Homo sapiens: one gene and its partner. The protein of the gene in region 1 interacts with the protein of each later gene in a pairwise test. Each region holds a gene or a part of one and is shown on either strand. Other genes may lie near its edges.

Region 1 (3,652 bases):
CAGGGGAAAGCAGGATTAGAGTGGACGTCACCTTTGGCCTCTAACCTCCCCTGCCACAGTGCAGCAAGTTGCACGGCACTTATTAAAATACTTGGTGTATAACCCCCTGCCCTGTTACATATTAGCACATGGAATTACAGAGGGCCCCATGATTTGTATAAGAATCTCCAGGGAAGCAAAGTCACCTTTTGGAAATAACACCTGAGATTTGTGTCTGGGACCATGCTTACCAGATGTCAGAGCATCATCTGATCAGTGAGCAACAGATTGCTCAAACTGGCCAAAGTGTGGTGGCTACGTGGTGGCTCCACAAAGGTGCCCAATCTCCCAGCTTTGGGCCCTACCATGTAATGATGAGAGAAACCTTCTCTTCTCCTTCTCTGCCAAGTCCAGGGTTTGCCAGCTGCTCAGTAATAGGTTTGTTTTTCTGGGATGAGACAGTTGCTGCCTCTTAGAAGATGGCAAAACAAAGCCTGTAATCCCCCCCATCCAATTGTGCAGTAATCCTCAGGGTGAGAAGGAGATCAGGGAGAGAGAGGACTTCTCTCATTTCATTTAACAAACACACTGTAACACTAATGCTCGCTACTATTGTAAGCACTTTACCAGCCTCGGCTCATGTAATCCTCATAACAACCCTAGGAGTAGGTACTGTTACCATTGTTCTCGTACTCCTTTTAGAGACAAAGAAACAGAGGAATTGAGAGGTGAAATAACTTGCTTAAGGTCTTATAGCTAGAAAATGGCACAGCCAGGGATTGAACCCAGGCAGACTAGCTCCCAGAGTTCACACTGCTGAGCTGCCTCTCACAGCTTCTGTGAGTGACACAGTTGCTCTGCAAAGCCAGGGGCAGCAGCACACCCCCAGGGAGCTCCCGGTGCTCCAATACAACCTCAGATATGCAGCCTCAGCACTGACTGGTTGTTGCAGACCCAGTGGACTGGCCATTGAGGAATAAGCCATGGGATAGGTTAAGAGCAACGGTGATCTCTGCAGAATTAATTGGTGGCTTCCCTTGGGTACATACTTATTTGCAAGAGTCCTGTCCAACTGACCCTGACCATTCATGTAGAATAGTTGCTTTCACTTGAAAATAGCCATAGAGAAGGGGTTGAGTTGGACCTGCTTGTATGTGTGCGTGTGCACATGTGTGTATATGCTAGAACATATTTTTCCCCTCCACAGATATGTGGGTGGCTAATTGGAACCTATCATGGGCATAAGTGGTTAAGGTTTATGTGGAAAGGAGTAACTGTTTATGAGATTTAGGAAGGAACATATTTCGTATAAACTATTTTCTAAAACATTTACAATCTCACCAAGAGATAGAGAGCTGAATAGCAACTGGGGGAAGAAATTGTGCAAAGAGAATCTAAATGCCCCACCTCTTCCTTCCCCTCATTATGAAGCTTCTAGGTCTGCAGAGAACTTAGCCACCAGCATTGGATCGCGGGTGTGCCAGGGGCTCCCAGAGGAAGCTGGTGTTTTCTCCTCTTTTTAAAAGTAGAAGACACAGAGGCCCAGGGAATGAAGTTAATTTTCTAGAATGCATGGGCTTTGGTGGCTCTCATGAGATTGACTCAGCCCTGGCTCAGTGATCCTCAGAAAAAAGTGAAAATACAGGTTGAGTATCCCTAATCCAAGCATCTAAAATCTGAAATGCTTCAAAATCCAGAACTTTTTGAATGCCAAAATGATGCTCAAAGGAAATGCTCGTTGGAGCATTTTGGATTTCAGATTTCTGGATTATAGATGCTCAATTGGTAAGTATAATGCAAATATTCCAAAATAAAAAAAAATCCTAAATCCAAAACACTTCTGGTGCTAAGCATTTTGGATAAGAGATACTTAACCTGTATCAACTCGTTTCATAACTAAAACACCACTTTAAGGTCGGTAGTTTTATTACCCCCATTATACAGATGTAAAAACTGGGGGACAGAGAAATTAATAATTTGCCAAAGGGAACTTGGCTAATAAATGATAAAAGTGGCATTTGAATATGAGGAAAAGCAGCAGATCTGGATTTTAATCCCAGCTCTACCATGTACTATACTGTACTACTCTGTAAATTCTTACAGCAGTTACCCAGCACAGACCTTCCTGCCCCTTCCCAATTCAATACTTGGCCTCTCCCAGGATTTTGACCCTGGCCTTTCTCACTAGAACACTCCACATCTTGACTCTATCTCTTCACAATTCAACCCCTAGTTTGGGTTCCCTTCCTCAGGGCTCCCAGCCCAGCCTAATCTTCTTCTCCCTCCTCTTTCCACATAACAGCCACTCAGACACCAGGGATTAGCTAATATGCATTTCTTATATTTGAATTATTATCAGCATATTCAAGGGGACTTTCCTATAAACATTTAGGCTGCACAATCACCCTGAGATGGAATGGGAAGGTATTTTATAACTGTTTTACTGGTGCAAAGCTTTACATTTTAACCGATGTAGAAAACAAGATGTTAGACATTAAATTTCCAGTGAATGGGGAGCAGAGAGAAGCTTTCTTCTGATGGGAAGGAAACCTTCTCTGCTATGGAAGCCCTTTCTGGCTTCCTCAGTGGGGAAAAATCAAGGAATGTGTTGGAGAGTGGAGAGCATGTAGAAGAGGCCCTCCTTCTGCCCCCAGAGGCTCAGGCCTCTCAGCCTCTCAGTGGGAATGTGAGAATGAAAGCATGCATTAGCTGATGGGTTGACGCTGCTGCATGCTTCACGCAACCCCAGTTCGGACCAGCTGGCTAGCCTTTCGAAGCCGCACAGGGCAGTTCCACCTGGATTCATGTAGCCCCCAGAGAAGGGCTGATGAGCTGCTCAGGGTGGGAGCTGGGGTTGCTTCCGGTGCTTGAAGGAAGGGGGAGGGAGAGAGTGGCATCCCTGCCTCTCTCCCTCTCCTCCACCCCCCTCCTCCCCTCGCTCCCACTCCTCCCATCTTCCTCCACCCCCGCCCCCCTCCCCTAAAATCTGTAATGATGGAGGTAGTGAAAAGCAGGGAAAGATTGATAATCAGCCTCATTATTACCAGCATTATATATAATTATAGCAAAACCTCACTCATTTGGATCAATTGAGAGAAAAATCAGTCTAAATTCGTGACAAGTTGGCAGATTACTTTTAAATTACAATTTTATTACTTCTAAGTAACACATGTGAACAGTTTGTGTTTCAAGTACCACAAGCTAATGGTTACTCAGTGGGGATTTTAGAAAACCTGCTTTAAAAGATTCTTTTGTAATTAACACCCCGTTAATATGCCAATGTGCTCCTTCTATGCTTTTTAAATTGCTTGAAAACATATGTATCTTAAATAGGCTTAACATTTCTACCATCTTATTTGCTTAACAAACCTTTTTTATTATTATTTTGTGAATGAACAAATACAAACTAGTTTATACCATGACCAGTTTAGTCACCACTCTGAATTAATTATGTTGTAAATTAATAAGACCATGTTGGTTGTTTTTGTTTAGAAATCAGACTTTTAGAACTTGAAGAACCACCTCATTTTATAGAAGAGAGGTTGAGAGACTTGCCCAAGGCCATATAGGCAAAAACAGCAGGTCTTCTGGCCCCTGGGTCCAAGTTTATTCCGTCTGCTAGATAATGCCTTACATTCCTAAAACTCTTTATGAATATGTGCTATTTATTTCC
Region 2 (3,652 bases), on another chromosome or scaffold:
TTGGGAGTTTTGTTAATTTAGCATATAAATTTTGTTTTATGCTTCTTTTTGGAATTTAGCCTTTAATTTCCTTTTATAATAATTTTCTTTATAGGCTTAAAATCTACCTTTAATATAGATTTTAATATAATACTTTAAGTTTAATATAGTGATAACTCATGGGTAATTTATCCAGACCATGGCCCTTAGAATGGATTCAGTGCACTGTTATAGAAATAAGTCCTAAACCAACTAGTATCATAACCTAATGCCTTAGGGTAGTAAAGTACCTCTTATCTCATCTGGTTGACTGGTTAATTAGGTTTGATTTGGCTTGTTTTTTAAAATCATTTAGAATGAATAATTTTGAGGGTTTGATTACATCTGTAAATGGCTAAGTTTTGCTGTATTCTAATATAAGAATAGGGCTGATAAAATATTATCTTTGAAATGTATTACACTTAAAAGATTCCAGCTACTTTTTATTGAGTTAAACTATTTTTTGTATATTAGATACAAATTTCAGTCATTTATTTCCAATTGAGTATACTTAAGATTTTACAGTTGTGGTTTGCCACTGGTCATAGGTGCTTTGATGATATATAGTAAGATTAGACCTTTAATAAAATTGTCAAATATATAACATGAATATTATAGGTATTATAAAAAAGTTGCTGTTAAAGAGAAACAAAAACGGGATGCAGATGAAGAAAGTATAGAAGACGTGGATGATGAAGAATTTGAAGAGCTGATTGGTAATTTGTTTTGTTGACTCTTTGTAAAATAATCTACTACTATGTGTTAATAGACCATGGAACATTAGTGGGAGAAGTGGCCTTAGTTTTAAAAAATCACTTAGCTAAGAATATCATGCAAATCACAGTGGAAGATTAAGAAATATTTGGGGCCAGGCGCTGTGGCTCACACCTGTAATCCCAGCACTTTGGCAGGCCGAGGCAGGAAGATTGTTTGAGGTCAGGAGTTCGAGACCAGCCTGGCCAATATGGTGAAACCCTGTCTCTACTAAAAACCCCAAAAAATGAGCTGGGCATGGTGGCACGCACCTGTAGTCCCAGCTACTCGAGAAGCAGAGGCACGAGAATCGCTTGAATCCAGGAGTCAGAGGTTGCCGTGAGCCAAGATTACGGCACTGCACTCTAGCCTGGGTGACAGAGTGAAATCCTGTCTCAAAAAAAAAACAAAAGAAACAAATATTTTTATGATATATGGTAATTCACCCACATTTGCACCAGAAAAATACATGATTTGTGCTTTGGATAGTCTATATAAGAAAACATTTATATTTGCTTAAGTCTATTCAATTGTTACAGCCAAATCTCATGTGAAAAAGAAATCCTTTTTACTATTCATAATCTATTATAGTATATCAGTACTAATTGATAGCAATAGTCTACTGTTTGATCTTTTTTATCTTTAATCCACAGAGCTACAGAAATTTTGATTGAAACTTAATAGACTTAAACAAAAAACATGGTAAATTGGAAAGACTTACACTGATTTCACGTTACATATTTTTTTGTTGTTGTTTTTTGGGGGGTTTGTTTGTTTGTTTTGAGACAGGCTCTCTCTGTCTCCCAGGCTGGAGTGCAGTGGCACAATCCCAACTCACTGCAGCCCTGCAGCCTAGACCTTCTGGGCTCAGGCGATTTTCCTGCCTCAGCCCCACGGGTAGCTGGGACTACAGGTACATGCCATGATGTCCGGCTCGTTTTTTTTTTGTTTTTTTTTTTGTTGTTGTTGTTTTTGTTTTTTTTTTTTTTTTAATAGAGATAGGGTCTTGCCGTGTTGCCCAGGCTGATGATCACTCCACCTCGGCCTCCCAAAGTGCTGGAATTACAAGCATGAGATGTTACATATTGTATCACACCTATTAAAAATGAGCACTTAAGTAGTTCTAATAGAGTAAAAAGGACGACAATTGCTAAATATCATTTTATTTGATATTTATCCTCTTTCCATAAAAGAACTGTAGAAAGAGCCGAAATTAACTGGATCCTTCTTTAGTTTTGGGATTTAACTAAGATCAGTATTTCACAGGTTTGTATACATTATTAAGGCACACTAGCAACAGTAACATTTACATTGTTTTGGTGTTCACTTGTCATAAACAGCAGAATCATGACTTAGAATAATTGATTCAGATACAAGATATATGTCAAGCTTGTCATTCTTTGTTGTATCTCACATTTCTGTATTGTCTGGCAGACACATTTGAAGATGATAACTGTTTCAGCTCTGGAAAGGATGATATGGATTTTGCTGGGTAACATACTTCTATCTTCTCCTTCCTATTTTTCTAGCATTTCCCAAATTGTTGTCCCTCAGAACAGTAGACCACAGAACTATATGATAAAGGGGAAATGTAGTCAAGTAAGTTTGGGAAGTGGATACAGTACTTTCATCTTTGACATTTATAAAGCACGTTATTATTTACTCTGAGCAGTCTGCAAAGCTTTCTCCTTCTGAGTCATTTAATAGCCTACTGCCCTAGTAGTCAGCAAAACACTACTTTAGAAAATACTGCCTCCTCTTGTATTACAAGTTGTGTTTTTTTCCAGAAACGTGAAAAAGAGAACAAAAGGAGCTAAGGATAACACATTAGATGAAGATTCAGAAGGTAGTGATGATGAACTTGGTAACCTGGATGACGATGAAGTTTCTTTAGGAAGTATGGATGATGAAGAATTTGCTGAAGTTGATGAAGATGGAGGAACATTCATGGATGTGTTAGATGATGAAAGTGAGAGCGTTCCAGGTAAGCATTTTTTAAAATAAGACATAAACTGTGTCTTCCTCACTTCCTTAGCCTTAAGTTTGTTTTTCTGCTAAAGGTTTTTAATATAGCCCTGTATTCAAATTAATACTCATGTCAGCCAGAAACTTAAAAGGACCTTTTCCCTTCTCGTTTGGAGCTGAAGGGTTTTTATTGTGTGTTATGTGTGTTTTCTTTTAAGCAGCTTTTTGAGCTTTGGACTTTTACTTTAACCAGCAGCTAGCTTCTCTGTACAATACATGTTGAGCTGAAATGCTGCCATTTTTTGATAGTAATTAGCAGTTTATAAAAGTTAATCAGTATTCATCATAGCCCAGCATAGATGAAGGTGAATATTTTATCTTGTAAATTAGCAAGGAACACCCAGAATTGTCTCTAGACTGTTGTCTGACCTTTCTGTCCTTTCACATACCTCCAGCATGCACATGCCTGCCCAACATTCTTCTTACTTATTCTGAACCACAGCAGAAGTTTCTTGTTTTAAGGGGTTTTATATTATTTGGTCTTATTAATGAAGCTATTTAGAAAATTTTGTACTTGCACAAAATATTAGAACTGTGCCAATTCTTAGAGTCTTTTTCTCAGTCTGTCCTCAAGCCTATGCTAGTGGAATTACAAAACCCACATGGAATAGCAGTATAGTGCCTTACCATCAGAATAAAGATTTTAGCATATCTTGGAGTAATATTTTCCAGTCTTATTGTTTTTAAATTGCTTATTAGCAAATTTTTTCGTGTAACAGAACTTGAAGTCCACTCCAAAGTCAGTACTAAGAAAAGCAAGAGAAAAGGTACAGATGATTTTGACTTTGCTGGCTCATTTCAAGGTAAGAAAATACATTTAATATCTTTTAAAAGCAGTGTCCATGTGAAAGGTGTC

The links.
Region 2: the proteins of RXRG (region 1) and CEBPZ interact in a two-hybrid assay, tested with the Homo sapiens proteins (one large-scale study listed by BioGRID and IntAct).

The regions. Positions count from the first base shown.
Region 1 is NC_000001.11:165,438,563-165,442,214, reverse strand, and holds part of RXRG (retinoic acid receptor RXR-gamma), read left to right. Parts: intron 1-3,652. UniProt on the Homo sapiens protein: Receptor for retinoic acid. Retinoic acid receptors bind as heterodimers to their target response elements in response to their ligands, all-trans or 9-cis retinoic acid, and regulate gene expression in various biological processes.
Region 2 is NC_000002.12:37,210,946-37,214,597, reverse strand, and holds part of CEBPZ (CCAAT/enhancer-binding protein zeta), read left to right. Parts: intron 1-636; coding exon 637-734; intron 735-1,043; exon of another isoform or gene 1,044-1,161; intron 1,162-1,918; exon of another isoform or gene 1,919-2,205; coding exon 2,206-2,263; exon of another isoform or gene 2,264-2,342; intron 2,343-2,558; coding exon 2,559-2,755; intron 2,756-3,423; exon of another isoform or gene 3,424-3,515; coding exon 3,516-3,599; exon of another isoform or gene 3,600-3,652. UniProt on the Homo sapiens protein: Stimulates transcription from the HSP70 promoter.